Linked DNA regions of Homo sapiens. The protein of the gene in region 1 purifies or fractionates together with the protein of each later gene. This does not show direct contact. Each region holds a gene or a part of one and is shown on either strand. Other genes may lie near its edges. The genes, in order: KIR3DL1 and FAM114A2.

Region 1 (3,922 bases):
GGGAGCTGGCAACTCGGTTTTGAGACAGGGCTGTTGTCTCCCTAGAAGACGTCCTCAAGGCCTGACTGTGGTGCTCATGGGCAGGAGACAACTTTGGATCTGGGCTTAGCATTTGGAAGTTCCGTGTACAAGATGGTATCTGTAGGGGGTGTCTTGGGCCTCTGAGAAGGGCGAGTGATTTTTCTCTGTGTGAAAACGCAGTGATCCAACTGTGCGTATGTCACCTCCTCAGGGTCTTGTTCATCAGAGTCCTGGAGAGAGGGAAATGCTGAGTGAGGGAGGGAAATGCTGAGTGAGGGAGGGTGCTCACGTTTTCCAGGACTGTTTGGGAATAACACTAGCCACGAGGCTGGGCCGAGGAGCACCTACCTCGCTGTTGGCTGTTCTGTTCCCTGCAGGCTCTTGGTCCATTACAGCAGCATCTGTAGGAGACGGAAGTCAACAAAAGAGCTCGGAGGGCACTTCTGGGTCCTCATTTCATAAGCAGATACCAACAAACAGGGGGAGGCCATAGGTGCCTGAGGTCCCTCAGTTGCCAACAGCAGACTCAGACATTCTATCTCTCTGAGCTCAAGGACCCATCCCATGAATAGCTCTGAGTTCCCATCCCATTGATTCTGTCTCCCACTTTCTGCCTGTCATGGAACCTTCTCCTGGATGTGAGTGGCTGCAGGGGACATGAGGATACAGTTCAGAATCAGGCAACGGTCTGTGAGCTGAAGGCAGGGGCAGGGAGTCTGGTGCTCTCTCTAGAAAGTCCTGCCTCTGTGGCTCCTGTCTTGGGCCAGGGACCATCCTGCCAGTGAGGAACACACAGCTGTGTGCTCCCATCCTGCTTCCCCACATGGCCCTGAGCTCTCTGGCCTGTGCCCCGTGAGACTTACTTTTTTTGTTGGAGCACCAGAGATGAAGGAGAAAGAAGAGGAGGAGGATGAAGAGGATGATGACCACTGAGGTCCCAATCAGAATGTGCAGGTGTCTGGGGTTACCTGGAAGAAGAGGAGACACCAGTAAGAAGCTAATCATAGCAGTTTCTCTATATGAATTGTCTTGCATTTCTTGATTGACAGGTAACCACTTACAGCATCTCTTTCGGACAAGCACCCAGATGGCGGGAGATCTAGCTTCCTCCTGCTTTCTCAGTTATAGCTCTCATAGTAACCATGGAACGTGCTGAGGATACAACTACTTTAGTTGAGATGTTTGACCCCTTCAAACCTCACATTGAAATTTAACCCCCAGTGTGGGAGGTTGGGCCTCTTGGGAGGTGTTTGGGTCATGGAGGTGGATCCATCATGAACAGATCAATGCTGTCCCAAGGAGACGGGGTTAGCAAGTTCCCTCTCTATTAGTTCCTGGAGAGCTGGTTGTTAAAAAGAGCTTGGAAGCTCCATTGCTCCCCCTCCCCCTTGCTCCCTCTCTTGCCGTGTGATCTCTGTGGTCTCTGCACAGACAGACCCTCCTTCCCTTCTGCCAGAGTGGGAGCGGCCTGAGGCCATCATAAGAAATAGATGCTGGTGCCATGCTTCCAGTACAGCCTGCAGAACGGTGAGGCAAACCAATCTCTTCTTTAGAAGTTACCCAGGCTCAAGTGTTCCTTTAGAGCAACAAAAATGGACTAAGACAGCAAAGTCCTGAGATCAGGAGGATTGTCCCAGAACAGCCTGGGCTGTCTTCCTGTTCTTCCTGGAGGAGGACGTCATGCAGTGCTTTAGCTGAGTGCTTCCTGTGGCTCCAGGGTACAAAACCCAGGCTGGGCTGCTTTCTGGCTTCCCCCAGCTACACTGCAAATGGGGTGACTCCACATGTCTCGAGCAGCTTTTCTGAGCCTTGGGGAACTGGCTCACATTGAAATGTAGGCTTCTGTTGTCACTCGCTGCTTATCTGTTAGTAATGAACCTGCCTATGTAACGTATTCTCTGTGTGTTCTGTCTCCCTGGAGTGACGGTGAGTGATAGGAATTGGCATAGGCCCAGGTGCAGTCCAGGAGGTGTTTAGAGTCTTCTCTGGGAAGACTGGACTGGGATTGATACACAGCGAATGTGCTTTAGGATTTCTACATCCACGGCATTCTTGAGTTAAACAACTTGCATTCTCCAAGAAAAGGAAACAAAAGTGAAATCAATATAAAAAAAGCGAAGTAGAATTCTCTTATGTCAAACAGCCAGAAAATAGTGTTGAAGCCCGTGTGAAATGTGCTACTCTTTGTGATCTCGGGAGACACATGTTAGGCTGCTGTTCTACCTCAGAGGCTGGGGGAAGGACCACCCCCTCGACTATCTATTGCTTCAATACCACCTGTCCTCCTGTGAATTAGTAGGAAAGGGGAGCAGGAGCTAGTGCTGGCACTGATCTCTGATTCCAAGATCTGGACTCACTCCAAGGAGTATTAGCATTTACCTCCCCATGATCTATCTGTATTTCCACAGGTGATTGGAAGTAGGGGTGAGATGGGGGATTTGGGTGAGGGGGCAAGTTTTTTTTGTGATGACCAGAGCACTTTCTCTATTCCAGGATTTGTGCTGGAGGATTCAGCGGGCTTTCACATTTTCTATATGATCTCATGCTCACAGAAAGCCAAATACGGAAGAGGTTTTAGGCTGATTGCCTAATGGATAAGATAAAGGATCAAAGAAGTAATTATAGAGAAATAGAAAAATGATGATGGGAATTCAGGTGCCTTTGTCATTCGTGTGTGTTTTATTATATTTATGCATTTCTTATTTTTATTTTTTGAGATGGAGTCTCCTTGTGTCACCCAGGCTGGAGTGCAGTGATGCGATCTCCACTCACTGCAACCTCCACCTCCTGGGTTGAAGTCATTCTCCTGCTTCATCCTCCAGAGCAGGAGCTGGGATTACAGGGATGCACCACCATGCTCGGCTAATTTTTGTATTTTTAGGAGAGATAGGGTTTCACCATGTAGAGATAGGGTTTCTCCATGTTGGCCAGGCTGGTCTCGAACTCCTGACTTCTTGGAATCCACTGGCCTTAGCCTCCTGCAGTGCTGGGTTACAGGAGTGAGCCACCGTTCACAGACTTGTATACTATGCTATAATAGGTCCCTTCATTTCCACCACCCCTCATATATCTGTCACTCCTTTGCCAGGTATTGATTTATGTGTAGGAGGAATAAATCTCAGAAAGAAATTAATTTAGCAAGGATTAAACAACTAGGAAACTCAAACCCAGCAAGCCCTCCCTGCAAATGATTCTACCTCCCAAACATAGCTTATATCCATCTGCTTCATCCACTTAGGGTCTAAATCAGCACCACATTTCACCAGTGGGGCGGCAATTGCCTTTTCCACTGTCTCCTAGATTCCAGTTACGCACCTGGGCCTCCCTTATTTTCATGTCAGTCACTATTAATCATGTAGGGATTCCTGGCTACCCCGAGGTGAATCCAATGGCTGTGAGTGTCAAACACACACTCCTTGTTGCTCCTTAGTTTCCTGTGTACCCAGTGTGCTCTCCGTCTCTCCACAGTCGTCTTGTCATTCTCCCCACCTCATTCCCAGCATTTCAGGCAGAGCCTCTTCCTTCCACATCAGATTGTTTTCAGCTTTCTGCCTTCACGGCTGACAGCTGTGTGTGGAAAATCCTTCCGCCAATCTTTCAGGGGTTCAATCCGTGTTTTTCATTAATGTCACAAATATCTGATTAGTGAGACCTTCTCTGTCACCCAAAATTATACACTCAGCATTATCTATTATTTATTTTGAATTCTGGCTGGGCAAAGTGGCTCACGCCTGTAATCCCAGTACTTTGGGTTGCTGAGATGGTCGGATCACTTGAGGTTGGGAGTTTCAGACAAGCTTGGCCAACATGGTGAAACATCCTCTCTACAAAAAATATACAAAAAGAATTAGCCGGGCATGGTGGCAGTTGCCTGTAATCCCAGCTACTCGAGAGGGTGAGG
Region 2 (3,922 bases), on another chromosome or scaffold:
AATAAAACAGCTCAGTCTCTGACATTTGTGAAATATCACACTTGTTGAGTGCCCACTGTGGGTATAATTTTATTCTGGGTTTTCTAAACTGAAGAATTCAGGTTTAAAATTCAGAACACCTCTAGAAATACAGAAAAATGTCTATTTCTCAAATGGAGATATCAATAGCAACTACCTATAAAATAGCTCTCCCTCAAAAAGGTCTTTCACTAAAAACAAGTACAAAAGAAAGCATCCTTTTTCAGCAGTAGGAACCCACAAGATCTTGTTCTTTGATTACAGGATTGAAAAATTCACATTTGTACACCTAGCACTGATTTCAGATTCATAGTAATGCCATCTATAAAAATTACAATTTCACATTTCAGAGGCCTGCCAACCTGGATATCTATGCTTAAAAAAAAAAAAAAAAACTATCAAAAGCAAGTAAGGAAAATATAGCTTGTCCTTAACACATTTCTAAGGTATTATGCAAAGGAAAATAAAAATTGTTTCATAGAGGTTTCTACTTCTTTCAGATCAAATTAATAAAGTCTCTCTTAATCACAGCCTTTTAAAATCTCAATAGTAGGAAAAGACACATTTACCCTAGCAATACCTGAACATTTCACTTATTAAGGTTTTAAGTGAATTGGAAAGGCATATATTAGTAATTAGTGGTAAATCTTAGACACCAAAAATTTAAAAGGAAAATAGTACCAAAAGTGTAGCTGTTAACAAAAAACTAAAACACTGTAACTACCCCAAATAAAATAATGAAGCACATACTATCCAAAAACCATCACCATAATCCAGCAAGTTCCAAAGTGATCCCTGAATTTACCTACTCATCTGTCATGAATGTTTATGTTTCTCTATGTCTACTGGATCAAGGAATCTTAATTCTTTTTCAGTATATTTTATGTGAAGAGTAGACAATTGTTACTCAGAATTGGGCCTTTCATCATTTCACTAGTGGTCCCTAACTCCATTAAAATAAATAAATATATATGGGGGGGTGGGGAAGATGAGAAAAAAAGAGTTAGTGAGTCATATTTACCTTATGTGAGACCTAATCTAAAATTTGCCAAATTCAGGGCTGAAATCTGAATAGGTGTATAAAAAGAGTTGTTACTCTCTCCTTCATATGTATACCCCATTTCTTGAAAGAAAAACCTTAAATACATTTCTAGGTTAAGGATTTAAAGCTGCCAAACTGCCATTGTACAAGAGGCTGAACAGACAGTAGGCAGAGTGACCAGTTTCTAAACTTTGCCCTCAAGGGATACAGGTTCAGACACATCAACCAAGCTTGAGGCAACAATTCAGAACTGGTGACACCAGCCTTTGTAACCAGAAGGCAACTGTTTTTCTGAAACTTCAGAAATATTCAAGCTGGAAAGGGTGAAATTTGTCTTTAAAAAGGAATATTCAAAAACTTTCTGATCATATTAAGACAGAATATAGGCAGAGTAACATTGTAGTGCTGTTGGTATACCTTTTTAAACCAAATTTATTTCTCTTCCTTGCTTACTAACTGACTCCTGCCCCAAAGAAGATTACGTAGAAACAGTCTTTATACTAATCTATGTTATGGCTTTGCTTTGCTATTTTTTTTTTTTTTTTTTGGTCTAAGTAAGATATTAGGGCTCGTGTTTACAAAAGTAAATGAAAGGATCAAATAACATGATTAATACATTTTATTACAAAGGTTTTAGAAGATGAGGGGCAGAGCTAACAAATTACCTTAATCATTAAAAAACCACAAAGTTGGAGAATTTTTTTAAAAAGAGTGGATACCAAAATAGCTTTTAGGAAGACGACAGCTTAATAGTCTCTTAAATTGCTGAAGAGAGCAAAAGAAAGCTTAAGATCTGGAGGATAAAAGTTATATCAAAAACATGCTAAAGAATACATTAAAACAAACAAAAAGGAAAGAGGAAAAAATAAACTATGCCTTAGAAGTTAAATCCTATCATAAATGAACATCATTTCTAAAGGACTATGGCCCACTTCAACACTCAAACAAAAAAATCCTCATTGCTAAAACAGCTTCAACATTCCTTTGGAGTTTGCTGTTAAAGAATTTATCCTGCATATATGGTAGACACGAAACACATCCTGAAGAGACTCAGAATATCTGCAAACATAAAACTGCTTCTCTAAATTGCATTTACTGGCCTTGAATCCAGTAGAGTAGGGTTCAGCTATGACATGAAGTGTGTCATCCTGGGGAGGGGGAGCAATTTGAAGAAAAAGGGCACTTTGCTACAGTTAATTCACATGGCTATAATAGTCTACAAGTTTCTCCTCAATGCCAAATATCTACTAAGAATTTAAAAAAGCAGATGAAACTTTCTATTTCCAAGAATTCATGTGATAAAGGGTAATCATCACAGAGTTTACATATGCTCAGTTTTCTTAAAGCCATAGATTTTATTCCAGAAAGGAGAAAGTACATGGCATTAATAAACCACACATGCCATGAATTTTAGAACACTAAATTATTTTTCTCTGGCTTATCAACCAGTTATATCCATGGGCTGCAAATTATATCCATGACAAAATTGATAACATTTTGCAACATGTCAAAGAAAGACCAACATTTTTGCCTGAGTGTCCCACTAATCTTTATCTAGAGTTATTATTCTTGGACTTTCTACAAAAGTTTCTTTTCAAATAATTTATGAATTACAACAACTGGAAAGAATACTGTGAGAACCTGAATACTTCAATCAAACACTGAAGGCAACAATCTTCCTCTTTAAACCATCTCTCCTGCCTGAATTTTTATATACTAAAATAACCCCACTCCTTCATTTCTGCAGGAGTAGCCAGAATAAGGTGGCATTCCTTGGCCGTCACAAGTCCCAGGTCAAAACGTCTCCATTCTTCAATGTTCTAACAAAGGTTTCTGGCCCTGCAGCTCATGTCTGTGTGATTCAATCTTGTTCTCAATGAGAGAGATCTCTAGCACAGGTAAGAGTAGCTGAAAGGCGTCCTGGATGTAGGAGGCACTGTTTGATGCCTGCCAGGATTGAAAAAACAAGAAAAAGAAAATATTAGTTATTTAAAAGAGAAGATATACTGTAAGGCAACAGGGGAACAGATTAATTTTTGTAATCTAACTGAATTCATAGCCTGGCAAGTAAGAGCAGTGACTTGGCCATTTTGGTAAACTCTATTATAGGGAGAAGAATTTAGCTCTTAAGATGATATGAGCACCAAAAGAGAATGTCAGCATTTTGTACAACTTGCCCATCAGACATGGTAGCTTTTCTTTGGCAACATGGTCAGACTTGGCATTCAAAGCTTATTTATTCCTTTATTGAGTAGGGTAGATTCTGTCACAATATTGTGGTCAATTACTGAAAGAGGCTTTCAGAAGGCTATAAATCCTACACCTATAGAATTTCTAGCCCATTATGATAGCTCTTTTTCCATGGACTCAATGCGATCAGTGAGCACAATAACTGCTCACACACATAAACATCTTTCACACATATACTGCTTTCAAAGATGACAGTATAGATATATTTCTATCTTGAACAACATTTTTCAGAAGTGTTAGAGAATCATTACCCTCAGTTTGCTGGACTTCATTTATACTGAAAAGCCCTCACCTTTCAAAAGAATATCAACAGAGAGCTCATTAAGATAAAAATGTATAATTTCGAAGACAAGAGTGTTTCAAATCTGTATCCAAAAAAAAAATCCACTAAAAATAATAGGGAGCCCATATCAAGTGATATTACCTTTTTAAAATTTATCAATGGCAAGTACTATTTAAAATTCAGTGTGACATTTAATACTCAATTTCCCACACAAAAGGGACCTCAGATATCGTCTAGTTAAATCTCTTATGTTGCACATGAAAATAACGAAGTTTGTCAGAGTCACACAACAAATCAAGGAAGATCCAGGGCAACACGGGGCTCCTGGT

The links.
Region 2: the proteins of KIR3DL1 (region 1) and FAM114A2 purify together in Homo sapiens (affinity purification with mass spectrometry; 3 studies listed by BioGRID and IntAct, with this or other methods). This does not show direct contact.

The regions. Positions count from the first base shown.
Region 1 is NC_000019.10:54,826,428-54,830,349, reverse strand, and holds part of KIR3DL1 (killer cell immunoglobulin-like receptor 3DL1 isoform 1 precursor), read right to left. Parts: intron 990-3,922; coding exon 885-989; intron 423-884; coding exon 370-422; intron 252-369; coding exon 75-251; 3' UTR 1-74. UniProt on the Homo sapiens protein: Receptor on natural killer (NK) cells for HLA Bw4 allele. Inhibits the activity of NK cells thus preventing cell lysis.
Region 2 is NC_000005.10:153,990,104-153,994,025, forward strand, and holds the end of FAM114A2 (protein FAM114A2), read right to left. Parts: intron 3,008-3,922; coding exon 2,873-3,007; 3' UTR 45-2,872; downstream 1-44.